Linked DNA regions of Homo sapiens: all the other regions are linked to region 1. Evidence: fine-mapped expression QTL. A gene starts in region 1. Each other region holds a variant in brackets. All regions are shown on one strand. Distances are from middle to middle.

What was found.
Region 2: its variant is fine-mapped to the expression of TCF3 in tibial nerve (GTEx, PIP 0.96). The same link has a PIP of 0.9 or more in subcutaneous fat.
Region 3: its variant is fine-mapped to the expression of TCF3 in whole blood (INTERVAL, PIP above 0.99).

Annotation. Positions count from the first base shown.
Region 1 is chr19:1,649,536-1,656,343 of GRCh38, reverse strand. It overlaps TCF3 (transcription factor 3), which reads left to right and starts at 3,729. Exons shown (of 19, transcript NM_003200.5): 1 at 3,729-4,044; 2 at 6,057-6,167. The coding sequence starts at 6,096. RefSeq lists enhancers at 2,991-3,100, 3,221-3,270, 6,689-6,808 and silencers at 3,561-3,610, 3,621-3,750, 4,281-4,360, 4,451-4,680, 4,488-4,710 and 1 more.
Region 2 is chr19:1,628,908-1,633,907 of GRCh38, reverse strand. TCF3 (transcription factor 3) reads left to right here. Exons shown (of 19, transcript NM_003200.5): 4 at 1,503-1,576; 5 at 1,792-1,870. Among named protein-coding and RNA genes, the nearest start is that of TCF3, 21 kb to the left of the region's middle. The variant C/T (reference allele first, on the strand shown) is at 2,663.
Region 3 is chr19:1,616,987-1,621,986 of GRCh38, reverse strand. TCF3 (transcription factor 3) reads left to right here. Exons shown (of 19, transcript NM_003200.5): 11 at 17-149; 12 at 796-854; 13 at 941-1,019; 14 at 2,134-2,207; 15 at 2,513-2,671; 16 at 2,753-2,876. Among named protein-coding and RNA genes, the nearest start is that of UQCR11, 14 kb to the right of the region's middle. The variant A/G (reference allele first, on the strand shown) is at 2,647.

The sequences.
Region 1 (6,808 bases):
GAATGGGCCCTACCCTGGCCGAGTCCCAGCCCAGGGCTCTGTGGGGTGGTCCTGATCTGGTCGTGTTGGGATCAGGCCCCTCACTGGAGGTCTGAGCTCGAGCAGGAAGCCCCCACTTTGGGAGGCGACACCGATCGCCCCAGCTGCCCGTGCTCAGTGGACGCCGGAGCGAGGTTTGTCCCAGGGCCTGACGTGGGTGATAAGTGCTGGGCCGCCACTCCCTTCTCCGCCCCTGCTGGAGGGCGCTGGGGGTTGGGGGAGTGTGTTCATACCCTGGGAGAAGTCAAAGGTGCCCACTTTAGGGACAAATGGAAACAGAAATCTGGAGGGTGGCCCCGAAGTCCTAATCCAAGCCCAGTCTCTCTGCGGACAGCTGTGGCCTGCACACCTACTGCGTCTGTCTCTGGAAACCTCGCCATCGCCGCCCCTCGCCCCCCTCGCTTCTGTGTCTCCCTAGTGGGAAGTTGTCCTTGGCCTCAGTTTTTCTGACATACGTGGTTCATGTTGGCGGGGGCGCACACAGTAGGTGTGGAGGGAACAGGCGGCAGGTGCAGAGGCCCTGCTCCTCCTCCTGCCCGGCCCCAGAGCAAAACAAAGGCCACAGTCAGGAGGATAGCTTGCTGCCTGTCCCCGTACCAGGGCCCTGGAGGGAGCACCCAGGCCTCGGGGCTGGGCAGAGGTGGTGGCCAAGTGGGGGGCCCCCACGGGCTGCTCCACCCAGTGACTCAGCCCCAGGACTGACCTCCTTGGGGAAAACAATGGTGGCTTGTGGTTACCAGCGGAACCTCCTGGCAGGCGCGAGCCCCAGGGTGCCCTGGGGCCCAGGGAGGAGACCCCTAGTCTCAGTTTCCTCATCTGTACGATACGTGGAACCACACAGGCAGGAGGACCTCACAGGAAAGAGCCACATTCAGGACTAGACAAGGGGTCCCTCATGGGTCATCCTGCCGGGACAGCAGGGACTGAGTCCATCACTGTCCACAGTGCTACGATGCGCGGCACAAGGCCCCGTTCGCTGTCAGTGCCCGATAATTGAATAGTCTTGTACGGCGCAGTGGCACACGCCTGTAATCCCAGCACTCTGGGAAGCCAAGGCGGGAGGATCACTTGTGCCTAGGAGTTCAAGACCAGCCTGGGCAACATAGGGAGAACCCCGTCTCTACAAAAAATACAAAATTAGCTGGGTGTGGTGGCGCGTGCCTGTGGTCCCAGCTACTCGGGAAACTGAGGCGGGAGGATCGTTTGAGCCCAGGAGGTCAAGGCTGCAGTGAGCTGTGATCTCACCACTGCACTCCAGCCTGGGCAACAGAGCGAGACTCTTTCTCAAAATAATAATAATAATAATAAGAAGAAGAAGAAGAAGAAGAAGAAGAAGAAGAAGTCCGTGATTGGATGGTTGCTTCCCTTCCGTGGGTGAAACTGAAGGGCTCCTCGGGAGGACTCCGGCTGCCACACTATGGCTTGGACCCTGAGTGTGGGTGGGGAGTGGCCCACAGTGAGCTCCCTACACTGGAATGGGGAGAGCCAGACCCGGCCACAGACACCCTCAGACCCATGGGGTCAGGGCTGGGCCACAAGGAAGGGCCGGGGGCTGAGGAGGCTGGGGTGGGATTGGAGCTGCTTGGAGACCCTGGCTCCGGAGAGGCCTCTGCGGGGGTGGGGGGCGGCTGAGGAAGGCAGGCATCAGCTGTGAGCACCTACTGTGTGCCAGACTCCCCCCTTCCACTGTCCAGATGGAGAAACCGAGGCCCGGAGAGTAGCACGAACTTGCCTGAGGTCACAGTGAGGTGGAGAGGGATGAGGGATTTGCAGCACAGACCCTGGGACCCACAGCCCTCTCCCCAGACCTGCGGCACGTGGAACTCTCTGGGCACGGAGGGTCGGACTGTGGACAGCCCAGTTTGGGTGTATAGCAGGAGGGGCTTGTGGCTTTGGTGGGGGGCCCCTGTGGCCCCGCCTCCCCGCCGGCCTGGCATAGGTGCAGCATTGAACTGTGATGACTCAGGGGCTCCAGATAGGGGTGGGAAAAGCCTCCCAGGTAGAGGACAAAGCAAACGTAGAGGCCCGGGGTGGGGATGAGCTTAGCAAGTTCTGGACCATCCAGAGGGCAGGATGGCTGGAGCCAAGCGGGCCAGCGAGATGGTGGCATCTTCCCAGGCTGGGAGTGGAGTGTAAATTTCCCTTTGGGGCCCCAGGGAGCCCTGGGAGATTGTGTTATTTTCATTTATTTGTTTAGTTATTTTACTTTTTTTTTTGAGACGGAGCCTCGTTCTGTCGCCCAGCCTGGAGTGCAGTGCTGCGATCTCTGCTCACTGCAACCTCTGCCTCCTGGGTTTAAGCGATTCTCCTGCCTCAGCTTCCCGAGTAGCTGAGATTATAGGTGTATGCCACCACGCCCAGCTAATTTTTGTATTTTTATTTTATTTTACTTATTTATTTATTTATTTTGAGACGGAGTTTCGTCCTTGTTGCCCAGGCTGGAGTACAATGGCGTGCTCTCGGCTCATTGCAACCTCCGCCTTTCGGGTGAAAGCGATTCTGCTGCCTCAGCCTCCCGAGTAGCTAGGACTACAGGTGCCCGCCACCATGCCCGGCTAATTTTTGTATTTTTAGTAGAGATGGGGTTTCACCGTGTTGGCCAGAGAGGTCTCGAACTCCTGACTTCAGGTGATCTGCCCGCCTTGGCCTCCCAAAGTGCTGGGAATACAAGCGTGGGCCACCGCGTCCGGTCAACTTTTTAAATTATTATTTTAAATTATTTTAAATATTTTTAGAGACGGGTGTGGGTGGGGGGGGTTTCACTATGTTGTTCAGGCTGTTCTCGAACTCCTGGCCTCAAGCGATCTTCCCGCCTCGGCCTCCTTCAAAGCGCTGGGATCACAGGCAGGAGCCACGGCGCCCGATCCTAGGCGGGGTCACTTTTTACTAAAATGTAGACACGGACTACTAAGAATCAGGAAGCCAGATCTGGCCTGAGTTCTGTCCAAAGTCAGGTCCAAATTCACAGATGCCGAGACGGAGACTCAAGTCGGCAAAGGCACCGCTGAGACTCCCCGCGGGGCTCTCTGACCCAGAGCCGGAGCCAGAGTCGGTTTTCCCGCCGGGAAAATGGGTCTGACGTAGCCCCCTCGGGGCCGTGATACCCGCTCGCACCACTCAGCACGCGGGGCCGGCCCGAGGAACGCAAATATAACCAAGCAGAAGGCTCCGCGCGGGCGGCCACGCCAACCTGAGAACAAAACTCCAGGACCCACCCCGGCCGCCTCTCGCGGCCTCTCGCTCGCAGAGTCCCGCCTCTGCTGAGGGGCGGGGCCGAGAAGAAAGGAGGCGGGGCCTCACCACGAATGGCTAGGATCCCCGCCCATCAGACTTTCGCGGCTTCCGATTGACCAGACTGCTCTGCCTTAGCTTTCAATCTCACGGGCCTTACTCGCTTGCGTCATGGACTAAGCGCACAGCTCGTGTGTGCTTCCGCGGACGGGGATAGTCCGTGATTTCTCCCCGCGCCGTGGCCCGACCGCCTCCTCTGCGCGTCCCCGCTCCCAGGCTCTGGACCTCACGGGATTCGGGGTCCTCACGAGGGTGCTCGAGAGGCCGAGCTAGGGCGTTCGGGCCCGAGCCGCCCGGAGGTGGCGGAGGGATCCGCGTGGGCCGCCGGGCGGGGCACTCGGGGGCGGGGCAGGGGCGGGGCCTGCACGGGGCGGGGCGGGGCGGCGCGGGCGGGGGGCGGAACATGTCTCCCGCCGCAGGAAGATGAGGCAGCGGCGGCGGCTGCGGGCGTAGCGGGCCGGAGCCGACGCGGCGGCGGGCACCGCGGGCACCGCGCACGCCGCTGCCCCAGGGGCGCCCCGGCCGGCCGCGCGCACGGGCCCCGCGGGACGGGCCACGCGGGGGTGGGAGGGGCCCGGGCCACGCGCGCCGCCGCCGCCGCCCACGCGCGACCCTCGGGGGCCCGGCCGCGACGCACCTTTGTCCGGGGGGGGGCCCCCCCGCTTCATGCCGCCGCCCCCCCCCACGCGCCGCGTGCCCGGCCGCGCCCAGCAGGTGAGCCCGGCGGGGGGCGGGGGGCGCGCCCGGTACCCCCGTGCTTTGTGCCCAGGGAACCCCGGCCCGCCCCGCGCGCGCTTGTTGGGGGGGGGCGCGGAGGAAGTTGGGGCGGGGGCGGTGTCGGGGGGCGCCCCGCGGCCCGGGAGTCATTGTTCTCCAACTTCGCGCGGCGCCGGGGGGGCGGCGACGTGGAGGAGCCCGGAGCTCGCCAGGCCCGCGTCGCCCCCGTCGGGCCGGGCACTTCGGGAAACTTTAAGCAGCCCCGGGCGGGGGCGCGGGGGGCGCCGGACGGGCTGTGCAACTTAGGCGCGAGGACCGTCCCCCCCAGCCCGGGCGCACGGGGACCCCGGGGCGCCCCCTTTCTCGGGTAGAGGGGGGCCCGGCCCGGGCGCCGGAGTTTGGGGTGGGGAGCGCGCGGGAGGGACGTCCTTTTGTCTGCGCGGGGAAGGTGCCGCGCGCTGCAGGCGCTGGTCGGGGCCGGGCGGGCCGGGGGGGGGCGCGCGGGTAACATCTGCTCCGCGTTAATGCGGGGCGAGGCGGCGGCCGCGCTGCGAGCTTCAAAGGCTCCCGGGCCGCACCGCCTGCACCGGCTGCGGGGGGAGGGGGGTCCGGCTTCCCGGGCCGCCTCCCCCCGGGAAAAAGGCGTTCCAGCGCGCCCCCCGCCTTCGGCGCCGTGCAAAGTGGCTTCAAACATTCTCCAAGTCTCTCAAAGTCCTTGGGACGCCCCAGAAGTCTTCCAGCTCCCGTAGAATGCCCGTTTTAGCTCGCCACCCCCCCAACTAAGTCTGTCTTAAAATCGGTTTCAGCTACCCCACAAAAAAGTGCGGTTTCGTAGTCCTCAAAAAAAGTCAGTTTCACACGCCCTCCAAAAAAGAAAAAAACTGAGCGGGGGAGGGGCTGCGCTGGGGCGCCCGCTTCACACCCGGCCTCCAGTTGGCAGACAAAGAGGGGATTTCTCTGCTTCTGAAGTTGGGTCTCCCTCGACCTCGGAGGCTCCTCCCCACCCCCAGCCTCGGAGGTGTCTCCCGGGCTGCCCCCGTCCCCACCTGGGGACCCCTGGGGAAAGTCGAGACTGGAGGGGCCTGGAGTGCATTTCTTTGGAATGGAAATTTTTCTCTGTACCTTTTTCTGGGGGTGGAATGGGTCTTGGCAGGTGGATCCCCCATCCCCCATCTTAGAATGGAGCCCCCTGGGACCACGCGGGAGCACCCTGGTCTTGAGACGCTCTCCCCGCTCATGGAGGGCAGGCAAGGGATGTTGTCAAAGTTTTGCTTAAAAATAATTCCCGGATACATCGCGACAGTAAAGCAATCTAGGGCTGTTTTTTTTTTCTTTCCTGAATACTGTTGGGGTTTTCTTGGGGGGAGGGAGATTGAGGGTGGAGGAAAGCTTTGCTGGTCCCTGCATAGGATGCGCGTCCCCCCCACCCCCGGCACTTTAAGTCTTGAAGCTTGTAAAAGAGTTTCGTGGTTTTCTGACTTGTGGATTTCCTTCATGTTGAATTTGGGGGCGACCTGGTCTTCAACGGGCTGTGCCATCTGCTGGGGGAGGGGGGAATCACCAAATTTCCCTCGGGGCGGGGTAGGATCGGGCTGTTCCTCCCTTTCCCGGGGGTAGGGGGCCTCAGAGGAAGCCCGGGGTTGGTTGGAAATGAGAGAGTTGGAGAAAGGAGAGGTTCTGGCTGCCCTGCGTGCAGTTTAAACTTGGCAACTTGATGCCCTGGTGTTCCCTGGGGGAGTTAGGGAGTTTATATTTGCACACCCTCCCCCCATTTTTCAGACTCCCTGTGGTCTCTGGGGAGGACTCTGCAGGGACCTAGACTCTGGAATTCCAGCTTCCCTGCGCCTGCTCCCAGGGCTCCCCGTGCCCCCAGGGCTCTGCTGGAACTCAGACCCCAGGGCGGTTGAGGGTTTTTTAGGTGGCTTTTAGCACTCTGTGCTTTGACCACTCACAACTCTTCTCCCCTCCCTGTTTCTCCCTGTCCATCTGTCCCCACATCCACCAAGCAGGGTTTCCAGGCCTGAGGTGCCCGCCCTGGCCCCAGGAGAATGAACCAGCCGCAGAGGATGGCGCCTGTGGGCACAGACAAGGAGCTCAGTGACCTCCTGGACTTCAGCATGGTGAGCCAGGACCCCCGCCCAGCCCCCGACACCCCTTTGCCTCCACAGTTCACGGGAAGGTTTTCAGGGGAGAGTGTTTGCTGAATACTTCAGCGATGGAGCCTCAGCTGTTTGGATGGGAGGCCCCGGTGGGGCTGGGGGAGTGGGCCGCTCTCTGGCAGGAGGCTGACAGCGCACGGCAGCACGTGTGCTATGGGGCTTTTGCCCGGACGCAGCATTCTACAGCCTACTGCTTTACAGATGGGGAAACTGAGTCCTCAGGGGCATGGTCCTGGGCCCCCAGCTTGGCTGGGTAAGCAAAATGCGGCCTTGATCTTCTGATCTGTAAAATGGGCCTGATCAGGGTCGCTTACCTCATTGTAGATACAAAAATTAAAAGTAAGTAAAAGATCACTGCACTCCAGTCTGGTTGACAGTGAGACCCTGGAGACCCTGTTTCAGTAAATGGGAGGGGGGCTGGGCACAGTGGTTCCCACCTGTCATTCCAGCACTTTGGGAGGCTGAGGCGGGAGGATCGCTTGAGGCCAGGAGTTCCAAGTCCAGCCCAGGAAACATAGTGAGGCCCCATTTCTCAAAAAGACAAAACAAAACTCAAAAAATTAGCTAGGAGTGGTGGTAGATGCCTGTGGTCCCAGCTACTT
Region 2 (5,000 bases), 22 kb after region 1:
TATAGAGGCAAACTGAGACCCAGAGGGTGCCGGCGCTGTGCCCACCCCTACACAGCCAGCCCACCCTGGCCTCAGCAGCTGCCCTGTTCACCAGGGCCCACGTGCAGGACCAGGATCTTGGGGTGCAGATGGCCCAGACCTGGCAGCGAATGCCGTGTGGATTCCTGGAGACCACAGGAGCCCCCTGCCTGGCCCCCAACCCAGCCAAGGCAGCATCCCAGCCCCCCACTCATAATCACATTGGAAATTTTTGATTAGAAAACAAAATCTAAATGAGGCGCATGAATATTCATTAGACTTGGAGATTAATATGCATAATTATGCAAATCAGACAGCAATTAAACACCAATACTCCCCGGGGGGAATGATTAACACAAAGGCACCGAAATAGAAGGATGCGATTTGAAAGAAGTTTCTGGTGTGGATGAGCAGGGAGGGCAGGGGGCGGGGCGGGGGAGCCTGCAGAACAGCCTGAGGTGGTGCCGGTCACAGACATCAGCACTGGGCTGGGTCCCCCAGGCCTGGCTCTCGGGAAGCCTCTGGACTTGGGAGTTGGACATGGACACCCCCAGCCCTGCAAAAGTAGGGCCTGTTTGTAAATCATTTATAGAGAGGGAAACCAAGGCAGGGCAGCAACTCCGTGGCCAAGCTGAGGAGGCCCAGGGCCCGCTCCTGCTTCTCCACGGGTGTGCTCTGTGGCCCCCGATGGAAGGGGGAAGGATCCAAGCAGGCCCTCCCTGCCCAGGGCAGAAGATTCTGGAGTCCTGGGCGTTGCCTGTGAGTGTTCTGAGAGATAAGGGCCCCGCCCGCCCCGCCCCGGGACCAAGGTCCTCGTCCCGTCCCTTGCTGCGCCGGGAACTCCTGCCCCACGCAGGCTTCTGGTCTCCACACTGGGCTTGTTCCTGGGTGATGAGATTCGGCTCCACCCTCACGGGCTGCCAGCCTCCTGCCCGATGGGTGAGCCTCTGCTGCTGCTTCAGCAAAGGGCGGCCCCACTTCCCACACTGGCAGGTGGGGACAGGGAGACCCTGGGCCTCCCCAGAGCTCATGGGTTAGCTTCCACACCCTCATGCTGTCATGAGCCTTTCTCACAGGGTCAGAAGAGTCTGCATCTGACACAGAGACCCCAGTCCACATAGTCAGGGCTGGGCCAGAGGGAGGGACTTGGGGCTGATGGGGAGGAGGCTCGGCGTGAGAGTGAGGTCTTTGCCCAAGGAGGGTATGAAAGCTGGGGCTTTAGTGGGTGGGTAGGAGTTGGCCAGCAGAGAGCCGACGGAAGAGTTAATTTAAGTTTATGGACCTGTAAGTGCTCCGAGTCCCAGGGTGTCTGGGTGTTAGCTGCTGACTGGTGTCCTCATGAGTCGGGCTGGGTGAGGCTGGGTTAGGAAGGGTTCCACAAGCCCCCCGGGTCCACTGAGGTTTGCCCCTGAGATGATGAACCGAAGCTTTTAGAGCTGGGCAGGCGTGAGGGTGACCCATAACTCTCTCTGTCCTGCCTGCAGGTCTTGAGGACCGGCCCAGCTCAGGCTCCTGGGGCAGCGGCGACCAGAGCAGCTCCTCCTTTGACCCCAGCCGGGTAGGAGTCCCCGTGAGGCCTGAGACCCTGAGTTTCCTGTCCCCAGAGTTGGGGGCGAGGGGTGTGGGGAAACTGAGGCTGAGAGAAGGGGCCAGCCTTCCAGGGGTTTGGACTGGGGGACATGGGTTTGAGTCCTGCCTCTCCAGCTGTAATGCGGGGTGGAGGGGGGGCCTGTGAAGCCCCAGCACCTCTCATCCCCACCCCATCTCCCCTAGACCTTCAGCGAGGGCACCCACTTCACTGAGTCGCACAGCAGCCTCTCTTCATCCACATTCCTGGGACCGGGACTCGGAGGTGAGTGCCTGGCCTGGTGCGGTCCCTCTGCTGTGCACAGATGTGCAGACGTGGGCCTTGGCATGGTCAGTGCACGCACAGCGCCAGGCAAGTCCCCAGCGTTCACCCAGAGGGTGTGGACAGCCGAAGCCTCTGCCCGTCCTGGGAGCAGCTGCGGGGAGGTGCAGGGGACGTGGCCCGGACTCCCTGGCACGGCACTCTGCAACTAGGCTTCCCCGCCTGAGCGTAGAGGCAGGGAGGCCGTTCCAGACCCCACTTCCTCCCTGGGATTTCTGCAGGGCTCCTCCTGCTTCCCGGGGAGGGGTCAGCCGGGCTGGCCTGTGCCCGCTGGGAAGGAGGCGTAGGAGTTCTGGAGACTCGGGAGGGCGGCCAGAGTGTGCGGTGGTCAGAGCCCATGCCCTTCCGCAGACCGCCCGCCCGCCCTCTTTCCCTGGGGGGCCCTCCTGTTAACCGAGAGAATCGTGACTCAGGTTGGGCTCGGTGGCTCACGCCTGTAATACCAGCACTTTGGGAGAGCGAGGTGGGTGGATCACCTGAGGTCAGGAGTTTGAGACCAGCCTGGCCAACATGGTGAAACCCCGCTTCTACCAAAAACACAAAAATTAGCCGGTCATGGTGTTGGATGCTTATAGTGCCAACTACTCAGGAGGCTGAGGCAGGAGAATTGCTTGAACCCAGGAGGTGGAGGCTGCAGTGAGCCGAGATCACGCCATTGCCCTCCAGCCTGGGTGATGGAGCGAGATTCCATCTTAAAAAAAAAAAAAGAATGAAGACTCAGGCCTGGTGTCTGGT[C/T]CCACCCCACCACGGAACCTGGGCAAGCGCCATCCTCTTCTGAGCCTCAGTTTCCCCACTGTGGGAAAGGGACCCTCCCAGAACCTTCTTGGAGGGAGGCGGTGAGGACTGACCCAGCTCTGCAGGCCCTGCCCAATGCCAGGTGGGGGTTGGTGCCTGGTCTTGGGTATATTCCAGCCCCGCTGCAGGCTCACCCGTGCTGCAGGGGAACGAACCGACGCTTGGGAAGGGCACCCTGGCCGGGGGTCTGCGGCTGGGTGGGGCTGACTGGGACGCCCTCCTCCAGGCACCTGGGGCTGCGACTGGGACAGTGTCCCGTGTGCGGTCCCTCCTGCGGGTGACACAGGAAATGCCCCGAGCTTCACATGCTCCGCCTCCTGCGGGAGTGTCAAGTCCTGTGCCCCAGGGTTCGGGGGCTCAGGTAGGGGTCTTGGGGGGGTCCCGCTGCTTGGGGGGCTGGTAAGGGCCTCAGGGGTCCCGCTGTCGTGGTCAGCCTCCTGCCCCAGTGCCTCAGCTGTGGAATTTGTGGTTTCATCCCTCAGTCATCCTGGGATGCGGGATCCTTCCCTTCTCTGGAACCCGACGGTTTGAGGCAGTGTTTCTGCTGGCTTTTCGTGGTGCAGTGGGGGTGTGCGCTGCTTAGAAGCCGGGAGCTGTGGGGCACTGGACCTGCTGCGGGGCCCAGGTGCTCACCGTGTACCCCTCGGCATTGTTGGCTTGCGGGGAAACTGAGGCCCGGAGGACTTTGGCCGACCCAGCCTTTTCCCTGGACCCTGAGGGGCAGCGCCTGTTTGGGCCCCACAGCGGGGCAGGGACGGTCCTGTCTCGCTTTGCCCGGCCTCGAACTTGGAGTACAGTAGAGTCAGTTGGTGTCCTGAGTAGGAAGCGAATAGCGTGAAGGTCTGGCGGGTGTGTCTGAGGGCCCACCACGTGCCACGGGCGATTTCTGCCCGTTCCCCTTACGGGGTAGGTGAGGCCTGGCCCCGCCCCCCTGCCGGGGGTGGCCCCTGCACCTGGGAGCCTGGTTCCTCACTGGCTGTTCCTTCCTCCCAGCCTCTTCCTCATACCCCCGATGGCCCCAGGGTGGGCAGGGCTGACGTGGGCAGTTCCCACGGCCCGGCCAGCAATGCCCAGAGCCCAGCCATGTCCCACCTGCCACCCCCACGGGTGGGGCCCAGGCCATAGCCAGGCAGCTTGGAGAGGGCAGGCGGGGGTCCCGGGGAGGCACGGGGGGCTTTTGCCATAACCTCAGTCTCCTATGGCCTCAGTTTTCTCACCCGAGGAGCCGGGCGAGTGACTGCTGTGGCCGGGTGTGGCCTGTGGGGTGGGTCGTGGCTGTCATCTTCCCCATGTCCCCCCGGGTCACCAAGATGAGGAAACGGGAGGCAAAAAACAGCAGCATTTGTTCCAGGAGTTGGGAAATCGTTGAACTTTTAAAATTCAAAAATCGGGAAATTTTTTTCCTGCTTTGAGAATAATGTACATTACTCGATCGCGCGTCCCAGCCCCTCACAGCAGCCCCAGTCACATTCCGTGCCCAGTGTCAGCCAGAAGGGGATTTAAGTGGCTCAGGTCCTGAGTAATCGGGGTGCCTGCTTCAGGCAAGGCTGGATCCAGGTGTCACCGCATCAGCCCCAGGCCCTCCACACTGGGGGCTCGCCCCGGCAGGCTGTCCTCCTCCGTAGCCCAGGCCCTCCATGCTGGGGGCTCGCCTTGGCCAGCTGTTCCCCTCCGTAGCCCAGGCCTTCCATGCTGGGGGCTCGCCCTGGCCAGCTGACCCCCTCCGTAGCCCCGAGGCCTCACCTGTCCTTTGTCACTGAGCGCCCCAGGGAAGTGCTCATTGGTGGGGTGCAGGTCACGTGCTCATTCGCGAATGAACCCTGGCCTGAAGGCTGAATGCTGGGCACTTTGGGGGAGCCTGTGCGGTGAACCTGATGCGGTGTGCACAGGCCCCGGGGCTCCCCGCCAGGGCCCCCAGGCCTGTCCCCTGGGACAGACAAATGCCTCTGACCCCAGCACCCCAGGGCATCAGCCCCTCAACGCCTGAAACAGAGGAAACTGAGGCTCAGGAAGGGCAGGGGCCTGGCCAGCAGGAAGCAGGGCCACTGTGAGCTCTGCTGTCCCCTTCCCGCCTCACCCCGTGAGCTCTGCTGTCCCCTTCCCGCCTCACCCCGTGAGCTCTGCTGTCCCCTTCCCGCCTCACCCCGTGAGCTCTGCTGTCCCCTTCCCGCCTCACCCCCGTGAGCTCTGCTGTCCCCTTCCCGCCTCACCCCCTGTGAGCTCTGCTGTCCCCTTCCCGCCTCACCCCGTGAGCTCTGCTGTCCCCTTCCCGCCTCAC
Region 3 (5,000 bases), 33 kb after region 1:
CTGCCTGACCCCCCAGGGCTACCAGCTGCATGGAGCAGAGGTGAACGGTGGGCTCCCATCTGCATCCTCCTTCTCCTCAGCCCCCGGAGCCACGTACGGCGGCGTCTCCAGCCACACGCCGCCTGTCAGCGGGGCCGACAGCCTCCTGGGTATGGCCCCTCCCTGGGATGCGGCCTCTCCGAGGGGACACTGGGCTCCAGGCAGGGTCTGGGTGGGGGGTGGCGAGGACTCCACGGGAGGCGCAGGCGCGTCTGCTGGCCCTGAGAGCGGGTTGTTGTCAGTTCTCATTGTCCGCTGTCTGCAGGGCCTGCCACGTGCGTTGGGCTTGGGATGTCTGGAAACAGATCTTTGAGGAGCGGCTTTCCCGCCTTACAGCTGGGAAAGAGGCTCAGAGAGGGACTCACCCACCCAGGGTCAGAGAGGGACTCACCCACCCAGGGTCAGAGAGGGACTCACCCACCCAGGCCCAGAGAGGGACTCACCCACCCAGGCCCAGAGAGGGACTCAGTTACCCAGGCCCAGAGAGGGACTCACCCATCCAGGCCCAGAGGGGGACTCACCCACCCAGGCCCAGAAGGGGACTCACCCACCCAGGGTCCCCTGCCAGTGGCCTGTCCCCAGTGCCTCAACCCCTGCAGAGGCTGGTTTCAGGGGGTCAGACAGAAACCGGACCCGAGTCAGGCTGCTCTCCCTGGCGCAGCAGTGTCTGTGCAGGACGGCAGAACGCAGGAGAGCTTGCCGTCGGCGGCAGCACCCAGGCCGGGCTGCGTGGGCCTCACCTCTCTTCACCCACAGGCTCCCGAGGGACCACAGCTGGCAGCTCCGGGGATGCCCTCGGCAAAGCACTGGCCTCGGTGAGGCGTGGGGCATGGGGGGTGGCCAGGCAAGTGACCTGAGAGGCCGGCCCCTGACCGCCCATCTCTCCTGGTCCTCCTCGCAGATCTACTCCCCGGATCACTCAAGCAATAACTTCTCGTCCAGCCCTTCTACCCCCGTGGGCTCCCCCCAGGGCCTGGCAGGTCTGTGAGGGTTTTGGGGGGAGGGGAGGCTGAGGTCTGTGAGGGTTTGGGGGGAGGGGAGGCTGAGGTCTGTGAAGGCTTTGCGGGGGAGGGGAGGCTGGTTCTGGTGTCTGCACCTTGCTGGGATAGGCAGGCAGCGGGGAGGGAGCAGATGGCCCCCAAGGGCCCGTGGCATCGCTGGTCAGGAACCGACGGTGGAAGGGAGTCCCCCATGGGCTTGTGTTCCACTGGGCAATCCAGGAAAGCTGCCTAGTGGAGGCAGCCTCCAAGCCAGCCCTCCAAGGCTATAGCACATAACCAGGCAGTGAGGGAGGGCTGGGAGGTGGCGTCCAGGTTAGGTCACAGCACAGGCAAAGCCAGGAGGCAGGACCTGGCAGTTCACACTGCGTGAACATGAGGGGACATTGGCGTGCCTAGCAGCTCCCAGGTCCGATGGGGCCAGCATCGCCAGGGCTGTGGCCTGGACTCTAGAATGTGTGCGTGTTGCCATTTGCTCACCCACTGGGTATTTATTAGGTACTGACTGTTTACCCTGTGCGGTGCTCCGGCATGGGAGGGCAGACCCTCCTATCCCTGTGAGGACGTGCTTGCTTATCCGCAGGGGGTCGGGGGCAGGTACAGGAGGAGGGGGAGTGAGAACTGGAGGTTTCCAGAAGGTCTGGGTGTTTAAAAACACCCGTGAGTCCTCATCTCTGCCCCCATGGGAAGCGCCAGGAACCCTCACTTCACCTCGGCCTGTCTGGTCCCACCTGGAGCTTGCCACTTTCTTGCCTGCTGCTGGAGCCCAGCGTGGGTCAGCCAGGGTGGGGCAGCATGGGGAGGAGCCCCCTACTGTGTGCTGCCGAGCCACTTTATCCTCTGAGTGGGGAGTTGGATTTTGTAGATGGGGAAACTGAGGCTCAGAGATAGGAATGGCAGTACCCACTGGGCACCCAGCATCCCTGCCTGGCGGGGCCGAGCAGCTTTGCATCAGTGTGGGGTGCCCCGGAATGGCCATCTTGGGCATCACCGGAGGCTGGACAGGCGGGGTGGTTCATGAATCCCTCCCCATGGGCATCAGGCCATGCTCACACCCCGCCCCTCGCACCCCATTCACGTCCCCACTCCCTTCCAGGAACGTCACAGTGGCCTCGAGCAGGAGCCCCCGGTGCCTTATCGCCCAGCTACGACGGGGGTCTCCACGGCCTGGTGAGTGCCTGCCCCGCCCCACCCCACCCTTCCCCGACAGAATTTGCAGGACAGACGCTCCTTGAGAAGGAGAAACCTTTTTGTTAGTTTCTTGTAAATAAGCCCCAAGCTGTTATTGAGGCCTCGTGGCCGCCAAGGCACACACATTTTGTGTGTGCTCCCGGGCGCCAGATGCCTGGCATATGCAGCTTCCTGGGGAAGGGGAAGATGGGACCACCGGCCACTTGCATGCGGAAGGGACATGAATGGAGGCCTGTGGGGTCCCTCGGCTTGGGCCCCTCACCACCCATCCCCCCACCCTGCAGCAGAGTAAGATAGAAGACCACCTGGACGAGGCCATCCACGTGCTCCGCAGCCACGCCGTGGGCACAGCCGGCGACATGCACACGCTGCTGCCTGGCCACGGGGCGCTGGCCTCAGGTTTCACCGGCCCCATGTC[A/G]CTGGGCGGGCGGCACGCAGGCCTGGTGAGCGCTGGGCGAGGGTGGAGCTGGGCAGTGGGCGGGGACCCGGCTCCCCCTGATGCACCCGTCTCCCCACGCCTGCAGGTTGGAGGCAGCCACCCCGAGGACGGCCTCGCAGGCAGCACCAGCCTCATGCACAACCACGCGGCCCTCCCCAGCCAGCCAGGCACCCTCCCTGACCTGTCTCGGCCTCCCGACTCCTACAGTGGTAAGCCCTTGAGCTTGGGACTGTCCGACTCCTGGTTCCAGTTGGGGAAACTGAGGCACTCTAGTGGTGGGGGTCAGGGTGGGAGCCCAGGGCAGGTGTCACCGTGGGGGCACCTGGTGACATGGGCGCCCCAGTCAGCAACTTCAGGAGGGTGGGTAAGACCGGCGGGGCCGGCGTTGGCCCTGGGCGTGTGAGGTGGACAGCTCTGGGCTGCCTCTTCATTCGCCTGCTCCCAGACGCTGTGTGCCTGGCAGCGCTCAGCACTGGGGAAGGGGCGAGGGGTGCAGCAGGATGCCTCTGCCTCAGGGGAGACAGACCAGGAGCTCGCTGCACAGTACAGGTGCCAGGGAGAAGGAACGAAGTGGCTGCGGTGGGTTGGGGGTTTTGTATGGCTTTGAAGATGGTGGCCCATGAGGCCACAAGGTGGTGTTTGGGCAGCATCTGGGAGGAGGCAAGAGTAGGCAAGTACCTGGAGGAGGAGGGTTTCAGGCAGAGGGCGCAGCCCAGGCAAAGGCCCTGGGGCTGGACTGCACCTGGGAGGAACAGCCAGGAGACCCGTGGGGTTGGAGCAGAGTGAGGAGAGGGAGAGAGGGAAGGGGGGAGGGCGGGGCAGGGCAGGTCATGCGGGGCCTTGTGGGCTGCGGGGAGGACTTGGGATTTGGCCATGAGAAAGGTGGCAGCCGTGGAGGGCTGAGGAGGGATGGGACCTGACCCAGGTGCTCACAGATACCCTCTGGTGGCTGCTTGGAGGACAGACTATGAGTGGCACCGGGAGACCAAGGCAGAGGCCACAGGGCTGGTCCAGGGGCCTTGGAGGGGTGAGCAGTGGGTGGGCCCTGCATCTCCTGAAGGCGGGGCCCACAGGATTTGTGATGGACAGGACTTGAGGGTGAGAGAAGGCAGGGTGGCTCTGGGATTTCTGGCCCGAGCTGTGGGTGACACTGGGGCTGGGAACTCCGTAAGGAAGGGGACAAAGGAAAAGGTTGGGGACAAATCTGGACCTGGGCCTGGGGATTGTTGAGTGTCTCAGACACCCATGAGAGGCCCAGGAGAAGGTGGGGTCATTGTGGGCGCTGTCCTGGCCCTGTGCCTTCCACCAGCCCAGGAATCCTGCCTGCTTTCCAGGCAGACTTTCCAAGTACCTTGATTCTATCACTCCTAGGCCAGGGCATCTCACCGCAGCGGCTCTGCCCCCAGGGGACACTGGGTGATGTCTGGGGACATCTACAGTTGTCAGGGCTGAGGGGAGCTCCTGGCATGGAGTGGGTGGGGGCCAGGGATGCTGCTCAGCACCCTGCAGTGCCCAGGACGGCCCCACCCCAGAGAAGGGTCCGGACCCACAGGTCAGCAGTTTCCAGGGGCAGCCCCAAGCTTAGTCTTTCACCCATAGGCTCCCCTCTGTTTCCTTCCTGTCCTTCACTTCGTGTGCTGAGGCCTGGGCTGGTCCTGGTGGCTGGCGTTGGCCGATTGGAGCAGAGTTCACTGTGGGGAGCGGGTGCATTTCTGAGGCTCCCCCTCAGGGTACGGGGGTCTCAGGGGATGGCAGCTGGTTTGCTCCATGTGAGCCCTGACTGATTCCTGGACTCCCCAAGCCCGGGTTTTGGGGGTGGCCCAGGCCCTGCTGAATGCAGAGTGGCCGCATTCATTTGGGGCACTGTGTACCCTTAAGCCACATGTTTTGCAATTATTGTTCTTGAGCTTCATGAACACGGCGTCCCACTAGCGTGTTCTTTACACGCTGGTTTGCTGGCTTATGTTGTGTGTGGGGTACATGTGTGGTGTGAGCGGCTGGGGTCCCATTGTGAGTGTGCCGTTGGCCCTGGCCCGGGCGTGGGGCTGTAGGTCATTCCAACATCACGCTTTCCTGCCAACCTGCTGATCAAGGGTGTGATACACCTGTTGTCAATTCAGAGGAAAGGCTGATGAATTATTTTCCAAAGCAGCCAAGTTGCCCTCCCACAGGCAAGATTTTGACTGTTCAGGTCCCTCAACTTTGCTAGCTGACTGGGTATGAAAGGGTAGCGCAAAGCCACCCTAATTTGCATTTCCTTAATCTCTTGATGTGCTGAAGCGGACTTCCACGTGTTTCTAGCCATGTGGTTTCCTTGTCTGTGAGATGCCTTT